Homo sapiens: one gene and its partners. The protein of the gene in region 3 purifies or fractionates together with the protein of the main gene of each other region. This does not show direct contact. Each region holds a gene or a part of one and is shown on either strand. Other genes may lie near its edges.

What was found. Proteins that work in one complex are often made in the same cells at the same time.
Region 1: the proteins of SLC8B1 (region 3) and SF3A3 purify together in Homo sapiens (affinity purification with mass spectrometry; one large-scale study listed by BioGRID and IntAct). This does not show direct contact.
Region 2: the proteins of SLC8B1 (region 3) and CYFIP2 purify together in Homo sapiens (affinity purification with mass spectrometry; one large-scale study listed by BioGRID and IntAct). This does not show direct contact.
Region 4: the proteins of SLC8B1 (region 3) and EIF2S3 purify together in Homo sapiens (affinity purification with mass spectrometry; one large-scale study listed by BioGRID and IntAct). This does not show direct contact.

The regions. Positions count from the first base shown.
Region 1 is NC_000001.11:37,969,523-37,973,022, forward strand, and holds part of SF3A3 (splicing factor 3A subunit 3), read right to left. Parts: intron 214-3,500; coding exon 49-213; intron 1-48. UniProt on the Homo sapiens protein: Component of the 17S U2 SnRNP complex of the spliceosome, a large ribonucleoprotein complex that removes introns from transcribed pre-mRNAs.
Region 2 is NC_000005.10:157,272,623-157,276,122, reverse strand, and holds part of CYFIP2 (cytoplasmic FMR1-interacting protein 2), read right to left. Parts: intron 1-3,500. UniProt on the Homo sapiens protein: Involved in T-cell adhesion and p53/TP53-dependent induction of apoptosis. Does not bind RNA. As component of the WAVE1 complex, required for BDNF-NTRK2 endocytic trafficking and signaling from early endosomes.
Region 3 is NC_000012.12:113,321,610-113,325,109, forward strand, and holds part of SLC8B1 (mitochondrial sodium/calcium exchanger protein isoform 1 precursor), read right to left. Parts: intron 1-3,500. UniProt on the Homo sapiens protein: Mitochondrial sodium/calcium antiporter that mediates sodium-dependent calcium efflux from mitochondrion, by mediating the exchange of 3 sodium ions per 1 calcium ion.
Region 4 is NC_000023.11:24,064,956-24,068,455, reverse strand, and holds part of EIF2S3 (eukaryotic translation initiation factor 2 subunit 3), read right to left. Parts: intron 2,459-3,500; coding exon 2,364-2,458; intron 493-2,363; coding exon 348-492; intron 1-347. UniProt on the Homo sapiens protein: Member of the eIF2 complex that functions in the early steps of protein synthesis by forming a ternary complex with GTP and initiator tRNA.

The DNA of each region.
Region 1 (3,500 bases), on a different chromosome or scaffold from region 3:
TGTTTCCAAAATGGGGAATGGGGAGAAAGTGGTAGTGCTGAGACTTACTTTGCCATCCCAGCCAAGTGGCAGGTTTTTGGGGTTGTAAATGATCTCGTTCTCTTCATCTTCACTCTCACTCTCACTGATCTGCTCTTCTTCCTCTTCTTCTCGCTCTTCTCCTGTCCTGGCTTGCTTGCGCTGTACATTTTCATGAGTGAGATGTCGCTGTTCCTAAAGCAGGTCCATAAATGAAAAGTCAGAAAAAAGTAGTGCAGAATAAGAAGGGAAATTTCCTGTTTTCCTGTAACTTTTGCTGACCCCTTACTTCCAAGGATAAGGTTCTTTCTTACAGAATAAAGGAAAATCTTGCCTTCATATCAGAACTCCTTATCAGCAGGCTCTACCTGATCCCAAAGAAAAGAGTCAAAGGTTTTACATCACTTGCCTAATTACTCATCTGAGGCTATTATAGAACAACAGAAAACAGTCTCATCTATTCTGACTCTAAAATATTTCCTGGCTGGGTGTGGTGGCTCACGCCTGTAATCCCATCACTTTTGGAGGCTGGGGTGGGAGAATCACTTGAGGCCAGGAGTTTGACATCAGCCTGGGCAACACAATGGGATCTCATCTCTACAAAACATTTACAAATTGGCTAGGCATGGAGGTGTGCACCTGTGATCCCAGCTCTTTAGGAGGCTGAGTTAGGAGGACTGCTTGAGCCCAGGAGTTTGAGGATGCAGTGAGCTCTGATCCCGCCACTGCACTCCAGCCTGGGCGACAGAGTGAGACTCCTTCTCAAAAAAAAAAAAAAAAAATATGCACACAATACAGGAGCACCCAGATTCATAAAGCAAGTCCTCAGAGACCTACAAAGAGACTTAGACTCCCACACAATAATAATGGGAAACTTTAACACCCCACTGTCAACATTAGACAGATCAACGAGACAAAGTTAACAAGGATATCCAGGAATTGAACTCAGCTCTGCACCAAGCGGACCTAATAGACATCTACAGAACTCTCCACCCCAAATCAACAGAATATACATTCTTCTCAGCACCACATCACACTTATTCCAAAATTGACCACATAGTTGGAAGTAAAGCACTCCTCAGCAAATGTAAAAGAACAGAAATTATAACAAACTGTCTCTCAGACGACAGTGCAGTCAAACTAGAACTCAGGATTAAGAAACTCACTCAAAACCGCTCAACTACATGGAAACTGAACAACCTGCTCCTGAATGACTACTGGATAAATAACGAAATGAAGGCAGAAATAAAGTGTTCTTGGAAACCAATGAGCACAAAGACACAACATACCAGAATCTCTGGGACGCATTTAAAGCAGCGTGTAAAGGGAAATTTATAGCACTAAATGTCCACAAAAGAAAGCAGGAAAGATCTAAAACTGACACCCTAACATCACAATTAAAAGAACTAGAGAAGCAAGAGCAAACACATTCAAAAGCTAGCAGAAGGCAAGAAATAATTAAGATCAGAGGAGAAGTGAAGGAGACAGACACACAAAAAAACCCTTCAAAAAAAATCAATGAATCCAGGAGCTGGTTTTTTGAAAAGATCAACAAAATTGATAAGACCGCTAGCAAGACTAATAAAGAAGAGAGAAGAATCAAACAGACGCAATAAAAAACGAAAAAGGAGATATCAACACCGATCCCACAGAAATACAAACTACCATCAGAGAATACTATAAACACCTCTACACAAACAAACTAGAAAATCTAGAAGAAATGGATAAATTCCTGGACACATACACCCTCCCAAGACTAAACCAGGAAGAAGTTGAATCCCTGAATAGACCAATAACAGGTTCTGAAACTGAGGCAATAATTAATAGCCTACCAACCAAAAAAAAGTCCAGGACCAGACGGATTCACAGCCGAGTTCTACCAGAGGTACAAAAAGAGCTGGTACCATTCCTTCTGAAACTATTCTAATCAATAGGAAAAGAGGGAATCCTCCCTAACTCATTTTATGAGGCCAACATCATCCTGATACCAAAGCCTGGCAGAGACCACAACAAAAAAAAGAGAATTTTAGACAATATCCCTGATGAACATCGATCCAAAAATCCTCAATAAAATACTGGCAAACTGAATCCAGCAGCACATCAAAAACTTATCCACCATGATCAAGTTGGCTTCATCCCTGTGATGCAAGGCTGGTTCAACATACGCAAATCAATAAACGTAATCCATCATATAAACAGAACCAAAGACAAAAACCACATGATTATCTCAATAGATGCAGAAAAGGCCTTTGACAAAATTCAACAGCCCTTCATGCTAAAAACTCTCAATAAACTAGGTATTAATAGGATGTTTCTCAAAATAATAAGAGCCATTTATGACAAACCCACAGCCAATATCATACTGAATGGGCAAAAACTGGAAGCATTCCCTTTGAAAACTGGCACAAGACAGGGATGCCCTTTCTCACCACTCCAATTCAACATAGTGTTGGAAGTTCCGGCCAGGGCAATCAGGCAGGAGAAAGAAATAAAGGGTATTCAATTAGGAAAAAAGGAAGTCAAATTGTCCCTGTTTGCAGATGACATGATTGTACATTTAGAAAACTCCATTGTCTCAGCCCAAAATCTCCTTAAGCTGATAAGCAACTTCAGCAAAGTCTCAGGATACAAAATCATGTGCAAAAATCACAAGCATTCTTATACACCAATAACAGATAAACGGAGAGCCAAATCATGAGTGAACTCCCCTTCACAATTCCTTCAAAGAGAATAAAATACCTAGGAATCCAGCTTACAAGGGATGTGAAGGACCTCTTCAAGGAGAACTACAAACCACTGCTCAACGAAATGAAAGAGGACACAAAGAAATGGAAGAACATTCCATGCTCATGGATAGGAAGAATCAATATTGTGAAAATGGCCATACTGCCCAAGGTAATTTATAGACTCAATGCCATCCCCATCAAGCTACCAATGACTTCACAAGCTTACCAATTTCTTCACAGAATTGGAAAAAACTACTTGAAAGTTCACATGGAACCAAAAAAGAGCCTGCCTTGCCAAGACAATCCTAAGCCAAAAGAACAAAGCTGGAGGCATCACGCTATCTGACTTCAAACTATACTACAAGGCTACAGTAACCAAAACAGCATGGTACTGGTATCAAAACAGAGATATAGACCAATGGAACAGAACGGAGTCCTTGGAAATAGTATGACACATCTACAACCATCTGATCTTTGACAAACCTGACAAAAACAAGAAATGGGGAAAGGATTCCCTATTTAATAAATGGTGCTGGGAAAACTGGCTAGACATATGTAGAAAGCTGAAACTGGATTCCTTCCTTACACCCTATACAAAAATTAATTCAAGATGGATTAAAGACTTAAATGTGGGCCGGGTGCGGTGGCTCACGCCTGTAATCCCAGCACTTTGGGAGGCCAAGGTGGGTGGATCACCTGAGGTCGGGAGTTCGAGATCAGCCTGGCTAACATGGTGAAACCCTGTCTCACTAAATA
Region 2 (3,500 bases), on a different chromosome or scaffold from region 3:
ATTAGAAAGGAAAAAGTAAAACTATTCCTATTTGCAGATAACATAGTCTTGTTATAGAAAATCCAAGAAAAATCCACTAAAAACTATTGAAAGTCATAAACAAGTTCAGCAAGTTTGTAGGATACAATATCAGCATATAAAAATCAGTAGTATCTCTATATACCAGCAATGCACAATATGAAAATAAAATGGAGAAAACAGTTCTATTTATAGTAGCATCAAAAATAATACAATACTTAGAAATAAACTTAACAAAATAAGTACAAAACATACACTCTGAAAGCAATAAAACCTTGTTGAAAATATTAAAGACCTAAATAAATAAAAAGATATCCCATGTCCATAGGTTGGAAGGCTTAATATTGTTAACACGGCAATACTGCCCAAACTAACCTACAGATTCAACATAATCTCTATGAAAATCTCATCTGGTTTCTTTGCAGAAATTGACAAGCTGATCCTAAAATTCATATGGAAATTCAAGGGACTCACTCAGGATAATCAAGACAATCTTGGGGGTGGGAGGAACTGAACAAAAATGGAAGACTCACACTTCCTGATTTCAAAACATACTCAAAACTACAGTAATCAAAATTGTGTGGTGTTACCATGAAGACAATGAACAATGATTAAATTAATGGAATTGAACTGAGAATCCAGAAATAAATCCTCACATTTATGGTCAATTGACAAGAGATGTAGAAAGAATATTCTTTTCAACAAATGATTCTAGGACAACTGGATACCCACATGCAAAATTTGTTTTATGGTGTGAGGTATAAATAATGTAATATATAATAAATTAACTCAAAATGGATCAAAGATCTATGTAAGAGCTAAAACTATAAAACTCATAAGAGTACATCTTTGTGACCTTGAATTATGTAATAACAACAAAAACACAAGCAACAAAATAAAAAATAAACTAAACATCAAAATAAAAAAAATTGTGCTTCAAAGGACGCCATCAAGAAAGTAAGTCCACAGAATAGAAGAAAATATTTGCAAATCATGTATTTGCTAAGTATATAAAATATGTAAATAATTCTTGGCTGGGCACAGTGGCTCATGCCTGTAATCCTAGTACTTTGGGAGGTTGATGGGAGAATCGCTTAAGCCAGGAGTTCAAGACCAGCCTGGGCAACAGAGTGATACCCTGTTTCTACAAAAAAATTTTTTTAAATAAAAATAAATTTAAAAAATGAATTCTTAAAACTCATTAATAAAGAGAACCTGATTTTAAAAATAGGCAAGGAACAGATTTTTCTCCAAAGATATACACATAGCCAATAAGCACACAGAAAGATTAATAACCTTAGTTATTAGGGAAATGCAAATCGATACCACTTCACACCCACTAGGATGGCTATAATGAAAAGGACAGACAATAACAAGTGTTGGCAAGGATGTGGAGAAACTGAGAATACCGTTGCTAATGGGAATGTAAGATGGTGCCGCAACTTTGGAAAATCGATTGGTATTTCCTCAAATTTTTAAACACACAGTTACCATTTGACCCAGCAATTCTACTCCTAGGCATACACCCAAGAGAAATGAAAATACAGGTCCACACAAAAACTTGTACATGGATGTTCATGGCACCATTATTTGTAATAGCTAAAAAGCAGAACTAACATATGCATCAACTGATAAATAAAAAATTGTATAGCCACATGGAGTATTTTTCAGCCATAAAAAGTAATTAAGTACTGATATTGATACAACATGAATAAACTTTGACAATATTATGCTAAGTGAAAGAAGCGAATCATTAAAGACCCCGTATTGTATTGTTCCATTTATTAAACATGCCCAGAATAGGCAAATCTATGGTTGCCAAGGGGTGGGGTTGGGGGAAATAGGTGGTGGTGCTAAAGGCCATGAGATTTCTTTTTGGGGTGCTAAAATGCTCTAAAACTGACTACGATTATGGGTTGTACAACTCTGTGAATATATTAAAAACCACTGAACGGTTTTTTTTTTTTTTTTTTTTACACAGAGTTTCACTCTTGTTCCCCAGGCTGGAGTGCAATGGCATGATCTCACTCACTGCAACCTCTGCCGGGTTCAAACGATTCTCCTGCCTCAGCCTCCCGAGTAGCTGGAATTACAGGCACCTGCCACCATGCCTGGCTAATTTTTGTATTTTCAGTAGAGACAGGGTTTTGCCATGTTGGCCAGGCTGGTCTCAAACTCCTGACCTCAGGTGATCCACCCACCTTGACCTCCCAAAGTGCTGGGGTTACAGACATGAGCCACCATGCCTGCCCTGAACTATATTTTTTAAATGAGTGAATTGTACAGTATGCAAACTATATTTCAATAAAGCTGCTACCAAAAGTTAGTATTTTTATAACTACTTTTTGGGAAACTTTGAGTGTAACATAAGCAGAAGGGGTACAAAGAGAGCTGGGGGTAGAGTAGGAGCTTGGGGAGTTTGGGGACTGTAAATGATGCCCCTACAAGCAGAGGCTGTGGAGAGCAAAAACCAACGGGGATAGCAGGGGAGGAAAAGAGTAATAGATACAACCATACCACCCCACAGAGCAGCCCCCTAAACTGCAGGGGTGAACTAGACCATACAGGGCAGGCCCAGCTAGCTTGTTTGTTCCCTCCCCCTGCCCCTGCCTGTTTTGGTTTCTCTGCCATCTGTCAGGTCCTGGGGCTGCCCCACCCTGGAGTAAAGACTTCTCAGATAATATTAACTGAGGAGTAATAATATTACTGCCTGTGAGGTGGGTGGGGTGATAGGTTCTGAGGTTTAGAATGAGAACAAGAAGGGAGCCTAGCTCTCTTTCTACTGATGAGGAAACCAAGGCTCAGAAAAGAGAAGGGACTTGTGCAAGGTCACTGGGCTAGTTAGGGGTGGAGCTAGGGTTAACACTGCACTTCCTGAGAAGACAAGGGACTGCAATAGAATAACTCATATGACACAGAGCTTTAAAAGAAAAGGACAGGGCCAGGCACAGTGGCTCGTGCCTGTAATCCCAGCACTTTGGGAGGCCGAGGCAGGTGGATCACCTGAGATCAGGAGTTCAAGACCAGCCTGACCAACATGGTGAAACCCCATTTCCACTAAAATTAAAAAATTACCCAGGTGTCATAGCACACGCCTGTAATCCCAGCTACTCGGGAGGCTGAGGCAGGAGAATCGCTTGAACCTGGGAGGCAGAGGTTGCAGTGAGCTGAGATCACGCCACTGCACTCCAGCTTGGGGAACAAGAGTGAAACTCCATCTCAAAATAAATAAATAGATAAATAAAAAGACAAGTATTGCAACAAAAATTCTGCAGCGAAATGAAAAGCCCTCTAAGAAAGGAAATATAATCAAAGGACTTTACTTGGCTGTCTGTGATCATCATTTATATATATTAATAATGTAGACACTTTAAACCTGATTTAGGTTAAAATAGAGCTCTTCCTATCTTGAGAGACGGGGGCAGGGGAGGGAGGGAGATGGTGTAAGAAAGTGAAATCTCCATCCATCACAGCAGGAAGTA
Region 3 (3,500 bases):
CTCCGTAAATCCCCCTCTCCAGTGGTCCCACCATAATTAGTTTGAAGCACATCCTTACAGACATTTCTCAGATCAATTATATTTGTATATATATCCTATTACACACTTTGTTTTGTTTAACAGAAATGGATCCATCCCAAATCTCTTGTTTCTATAATTTGCTTTTACCATTATATATATATATATATTAATATACCTTAATATACAGAATTTGAAACATACTATAGTGATTTCTATATGCAAAGCATAGTGCTAAGAGCTTAAAATGTATCTCAATTAATCTGTACAATAATTCTATGATGGCTGGGGGCAGTGGCTCATGCCTATAATCCCAGCACTTTGGGAGGTTGAGGTGGGAGGATTGCTTGAACCCAGGATTTCAAGACCAGCCTGGACAACATAGCAAGACCCCATCTCTGCAAAAAAATAAAATAAAAAATTAGGTAGGCATGGTGATGTGCACTTGTAGTCCCAGCTACTCAGGAGACTGAGGTGGGAGGATCACCTGAGCCCAGGAGGTTGAGGCTGCAATACTGCATTTAGCTTGGGGAATAGAATGAGATCTTGTCTCAAAAAAAAAAAATATGTATCTCAATTACTCTGCACAACAGTCTGCGAGGAAGGAACTATTATCATGCCCATTAAACAGTTAAGGAGACTGAGACAATGTCCGTGTGCACTCAGTGGGAGGGTCAAGGTTGGAACCCAGGCAGTTTTAGGCTCTAGGGCCCACTGTTCTCCCCTGCCTCCCCACAGAGTCTTTCACTGCAGCAGAGTATTTCATACTATGGGTGATACATCACTGAGGTAAACATTTCCCTACTGGGCATTTGGGTATGCCTAGTTTTTCAATATAGCCAATGAGCTTCCTCACACATGACTCTCTGAGCACATATGAGAAAAATGTTGTCAGAGAAGATTTGAGAAGAGAAAGTGCTGAATCAGAGGGTATCCTGGTCTGGGTTCCTCCAGAAGCTGACTCAGAGACAAAGATTGAGATGGACATAGTATGTTTGGGAGACCTGAGGAACACAAACATAGAGAAAGGGAAGTGGGCCCGGGTGTGGTGGCTCACGCCTGTAACTGTAGCATTTTGGGAGGCCAAGGCTGCAGGATCACTTGACCTCAGGAGTTCGAGACCAGCCTGGGCAACATGACAAAACTCCATCTCTACAAAAAATACAAAAAAAACTAGCCGGGCTTGGTGGCATACGCCTGTAGTCCCAACTACTCAGGAGGAGGAGGTGGGAGGAGCACCTGAGCCTGGAAGTTCAAGGTTGCAGAGAGCTATGATTGTACCACTGCAGTCCAGCCTGGGTGACAGAGTGAGACCCTGTCTCAAAAGAAAAAAATAAAAGAAATAGGAGAAAAGAAGTGGTACAGAGAAGGGATAGCTGCCAACGAAGGCTGGGTTGAGCCAGTTACCACCACCATGAGCTTAATCAGGAGGCAAGGGAGCTGGGATATTTATACACCAACTCTCATCAGCCATTGGGTGAGGACTGCTAGATGGAGGTTTTAGTTCCCCAGCACCTCTAGCCTACTATGCTTATAAGTGGTTCTAGAACAATAAACTGGCAACTGGAAGTCAACAAAAGCCCACCAAAATAGTACAGTCCAAAAGAAATGCTCAAGGCCCTGACAAGGGATCTTCAACATTGCTAGATTTTGCCAAAATGCCCTGGCCAAGCTCTACCTACATACACTCCCACCAGGAATGGGAAATAAGCAATTCTCATAAGCCTGCACCCACATTGGCTATGAGCAGCCTTATTCAGATCAATGTGATAGGAATGTCATTGTTAAACTGCAAGTCTGGCCAGGTGTGGTGGCTCATGCCTGTAATCCCAGCACGTTGGGAGGCCGAGGTAGGCGGATCACTTGAGGTCAGGAGTTCATGACCAGCCTGGTCAACATGGGGAAACCCCGTCTCTACTAAAAATACAAAAATGAGCCAGGCGTGGTGACATCCACCTGTAGTCCCAGCTACTCAGGAGGCTGAAGCAGGAGAATCGCTTGAACCCAGGAGGCAGAGGTTGCAGTGAGCCAAGATCATACCACTGCACTCCAGCCTGGGTGACAAAGTGAGACTCCATCTCAAAAAAAAACAACAACAAAAAAAGCTAAGACAGTAAATTTTAGGTTATGTGTATTTCATTATAATTTTTTAAAAGCTTTGTCAAACCACAGTTCCACCTCCTCCACAAGCCCTCTCTGAACTCCCACTAACACCAGACTGGAAGTGAGATTTCTTATCTCTGAGCCTCTGGCCTTCTCACCAATTTTTGCTAAGAGCTCTACCCACCCATACAGTATCCCCTGAGCAGAGACTGAAACCCCCAGCCCTGCCCCAACCCCTCAATCTTTCTACAGTGTCCTGTCCTCAGAAAGCACATGCCAGCTGGGAAGATGAAATCTGTGGCCAGGTAAACTGGCTCACACCTGTAATCCCAACACTTTGGGAGGCTGAGGCAGGAGGATCGCTTAAGCCCAGGAGTTTGAGACCAACTTGGGTAACATAGTAAGACCCCATTGCTACAAAAAAATTTAAAAATGAGCCAGGCATGGTGGCACACGCCTGTGGTTCCAGCTACTTCAGAGGCTGAGGTGAGAGGATTGCTTGAGTCTGGGAGGTTGAGGCTGCAGTGAGCTATGATGGCACCACTGCTCTCCAGCCTGGGTGACAGAGCAAGCCTGTCTCAAAAAAAAACAAACAAACAAAAAAAAAAACTTTTCTTTTTTTGAGATCAGGACAACCTGAGCATAATACCCACTCAGCCACTCAGCTCTACCTTTTTTTTTTTTTTTTTTTTTGGAGACAGAGTCTCCCTCTGTCACCCAGGCTGGAGTACAATAGCACAATCTCGGCTCACTGAAACCTCCACCTCTCGGGTTCAACTGATTCTCCTGCCTCAGCCTCCCGAGTAGCTGGGACTACAGGTGCCCACCGACACGCCCGGCTAAGTTTTGTATTTTTAGTAGAAATGGGGTTTCACCACGTTGGCCAGGCTGGTCTCAAACTTCTGACCTCAAGTGATCTACCTGCCTTGGCCTCCCAGAGTGCTAGGATTACAGGTGTGAGCCACTGCGCCCAGCCCCTTTTTTTTCCTTTGAGACAGAGTCTCACTCTGTCGCCTAGGCTGGAGTGCAGTAGAGCAATCTTGGCTCACTGCAACCTCCACCTCCTGGGTTCAAGTGATTCTCCTGCCTCAGCCACCTGAGTAGCTGGAACTACATGCACACAACACCACACCTGGCTAATTTTTGTATTTTTGGTAAAGATGAGGTTTCACTGTGTTGGCCAGGCTGGTCTTGAACTCCTGACCTCAAGTGATCCACCTACTTCAGCCTCCCAAAGTACTGGGATTACAGGTGTGAGCCTCCATGCCCAACCAGCTCTACCATCTAAGAGCTGTATCTGTAGCAATTCCCTTCCTCTCTTTGAGCTTCAGTCTCATTTGTAAAATGGGACTAATTATACCAACCCCATTGATAAAAGA
Region 4 (3,500 bases), on a different chromosome or scaffold from region 3:
AAAAAAAGGCAACCATTATCTAGCACAAAAATCATGTTAACAAAAACATAAGTGTAGGTAAATATCTTACATGATAAGTCATCAAATTTATTTTTTTATATTGCTAAAAAGGAGTTACTCTATATTTGATCAAAATGTATCCTTTGTGTTTAAAAATAATTTTTACAAACCCATGAAACCATCTTATAACCTAAAACAAGAGCTTAACCACATGATTGTTCCCCACCCTACTCTATTATTAAAATACCCAATTAAAAATCTGTAATATGTCCCTTTTGGTAATCCATCCCCCATGAAAAGTACCACAAATAGCCACAAATTAAAAGAGATGAGAAAAAAATCCTTACCAATAAGACCGCCTGGAGCAGCATATTGCAGATCATTATGCTCCGCAAAAAGTGATACAATTTTGGAAAAGATTGGTTTACACATGAGTTTTCCTTCACTATCTTTGGAAACAATACCAGGTCTTACTTCTATCTCCTGGCCCACCTGTAAACATATAATTAGTAATTAGAATTACTGTGTTACGCAAAATTATCATTTACCTATCAAAAGTTCCAACAGGGACTGGGTGCGGTGGCTCACATGTGTAATCCTAGCATTTTGGGAGGCCGAGGCGGGTGGATCACCTGAGGTCAGGAGTTCGAGACCAGCCCAGCCAACATAGTGAAACCCCGTCTCTACTAAAAACACAAAAATTAGCCAGGTGTGGTGGCACGCACCTGTAATCCCTGCTACTCAGGAGGCTGCGGCAGAATTGCTAGAACCTGGGAGGCAGAGGTTGCAGTGAACCGAGATCGCACCACTGCACTCCAGCCTGGGTGACAAAGAGAGACTCTGTCTCAAAAATAAAATAAAATAAAATAATAATAAAGGTCCAACCGGAAGACCATAAAACTGAAAAGGCAATCATTCCTGTATTTCAAAGATCATTATTCTTAAAAAAAAAAAAAAAAAAAGATGTGAACGAGACTGTCAAAACCAGAACCATCCAACTGTTGTTAACTACCCACCACACAAGTCTATTACCACATCAAATGTGCTCCATACTTACAAGTCTATAAATTTTCAAGTCAGACACATTCAAAAGACATAACAGAAAACAAAGAAATATAGCTGGGCGTGGTGGCTTATGCCTGTAATCCCAGCACTTTGGGAGGCTGAGGCAGGCAGATCACCTGAGGTCAGGAGTTAAGAGACCAGCCTGGCCAATATGGCAAAACCCCATCTCTACCAAAAAAATTAGCTGGGCGAGGTTGCGAGTGCCTGTAGCCCCAGCAAGTCGGGAGGCTGTGGCAGGAGAATCATCACCTGAACCCAGGAGGTGGAGGTTGCAGTGAGTCAAGATCATGCCACTGTGCTCAAAAAACAAAACAAAAAAAAAACTATTATCAGAGCATGTAAATTAGTATAGCTACCATGGAGAACAGTATGGAGGTTCCTTGAAAACCTGAAAATACAGCTACCATATGATCCATCAGTTTCACTAGTGGGTATACATTCACCAGAAAGGGAAGCAATATTATCAAAGAGGTATCTGCACTCCCATGTTTATTGTAGCACAGTTCACAATAGCCAAACATGGAATCAACCTAAGTGCCCATGAACAGATGAATGGATAAAGAAAATGCAGTATATAGGCCGGGCAAAGTGGCTCACGCCTATAATCCCAACACTTTGGGAGGCCGAGGCGGGTGGATCACTTGAGGTAAGGAGTTCAAGACCAGCCTGGCCAACATGGTGAAACCCTGTCTTTACTACAAATACAAAAATTAGCTGGGCATGGTGGGGGGTGCTTGTAATCCCAGCTACTTGGGAGGCTGGGGCAGGGAGAATCGCTTGAACCCAGGAGGTGAAGGTTGCAGTGAGCTGAGATCGCTCCAGCTTGGGCGAAACAGCAAGACTCCGCCTCAAGAAAAAAAAAAAAAAGAAAAGAAAAGCAATGGCAGCATATATATATATGCAATGAAGTATTATGCAGCCATAAAAAAAAATTCTGCCATTTGCAGCAGCACATCTAGAATTGGAGGCCATTTTGTTAAGTAAAATAAGCCAGGCACAAAAAGACAAATATCACACATTCTCACTCATCTGTATATGTGGAAGCTAAAAAGGTGGATCTCATGAAGGTAGATTGTGGATTCAGAGGTCTAGAAGGGTGGGAGGAGTGAAGTTTGAAGAGAGAAAAAAAGAATATTAAAAAAGAGAACTCTACATCAAATACCAGAAACCATGGAAAAAATTTTATTTTTCAATTTGGATTGTCCATACTTTTTTTCCTGATTAAGACAAGGATAAAACAAACAAACAAACAACAAAAAAAAAAAACCCAAAATCACAACAACCAAAACCCATTTTACCTTTAATACTCCTTTTAGGATACTACCACCAGCTACACCTCCCTTAAGGTCATCAACTTCACAGCCAGGTTTGTTGACATCAAAAGATCTAATAACTAAAATAAAACAAATTAAAGTCAGTTCTGTTAATCTTAACTTTAGAAGAAATATTATTTTCCATGTTAATGTTTCTAAAATAGTGGCCATTTGAGATTTATACCAAAGGGGTGCCTTTTTAACAAAATCTATTATTATTCCAATGATTAAGCAGTCTTACTTATGATGGAAAAAATGAAAGTAACTTAAGTTTATTAATAAGTGGCATATAGGGTATACCAGTATTATAGAGCATCACGCAGCTATTAACAATGTTAGAGCTATATGTAATGATCTGGAAGGATGACCCTCACATACTGTTAAGAAAAGTTATAAAAATTACACGCATAATATAATCCCACTTCCATAAAGAAAAATAAAATAATCAATGTCTGTATATGGATTTTTTTTTCCCTCTATCATAGAGGCTGGAGTGCAGTGGCACAATCATAGCTCACTGCAGCCTCAAATTCCTGGGCTCAATCTTCCTGCCTCAGCCTACCGAGTAGCTCGGACTACAGGTACACACCACTGCACCCAGCTGTAATATTTTATTTTTTGTAGAAATGGGGTCTTCCCTTAATGCCCAGGATGGTCCTGAACTCCTAGCCTCAAGCAATCCTCTCACCTCAGCGTCAGCCTCCCAAAGTGCTGGGATTACAGGTGAAAGCCACCATGCCCAGCCTGTGTATATGTTTATACACGATGATATGAACAAAGAGAAAAGTGTGGGAATAATGGACACCAAATGTTAACTTTGCTGACTTTAGGGCTAAGGAACTAGAACTTGAAGACAGAGAGATTATGGACATTTTCTTTATAGACCTCTGTAACTCCTGTAAGAACAATTCAGCTTTATAACTATAAAACACTAGGACTACATGACCTGCACTTCGGAGACTATTTCCTACTAAACACCAGAAGCTCGGATGAAAGCCAGAGGAGCTCAAATGTCTGTTTCGAGAAGGCTACTACATCCCCGTGTAGGAACCACAAGCCTAGGTGATCAAATTATACCAGTATCAGTTCTTCGTTAATTGAACAACAAAATCATCTGTAAAT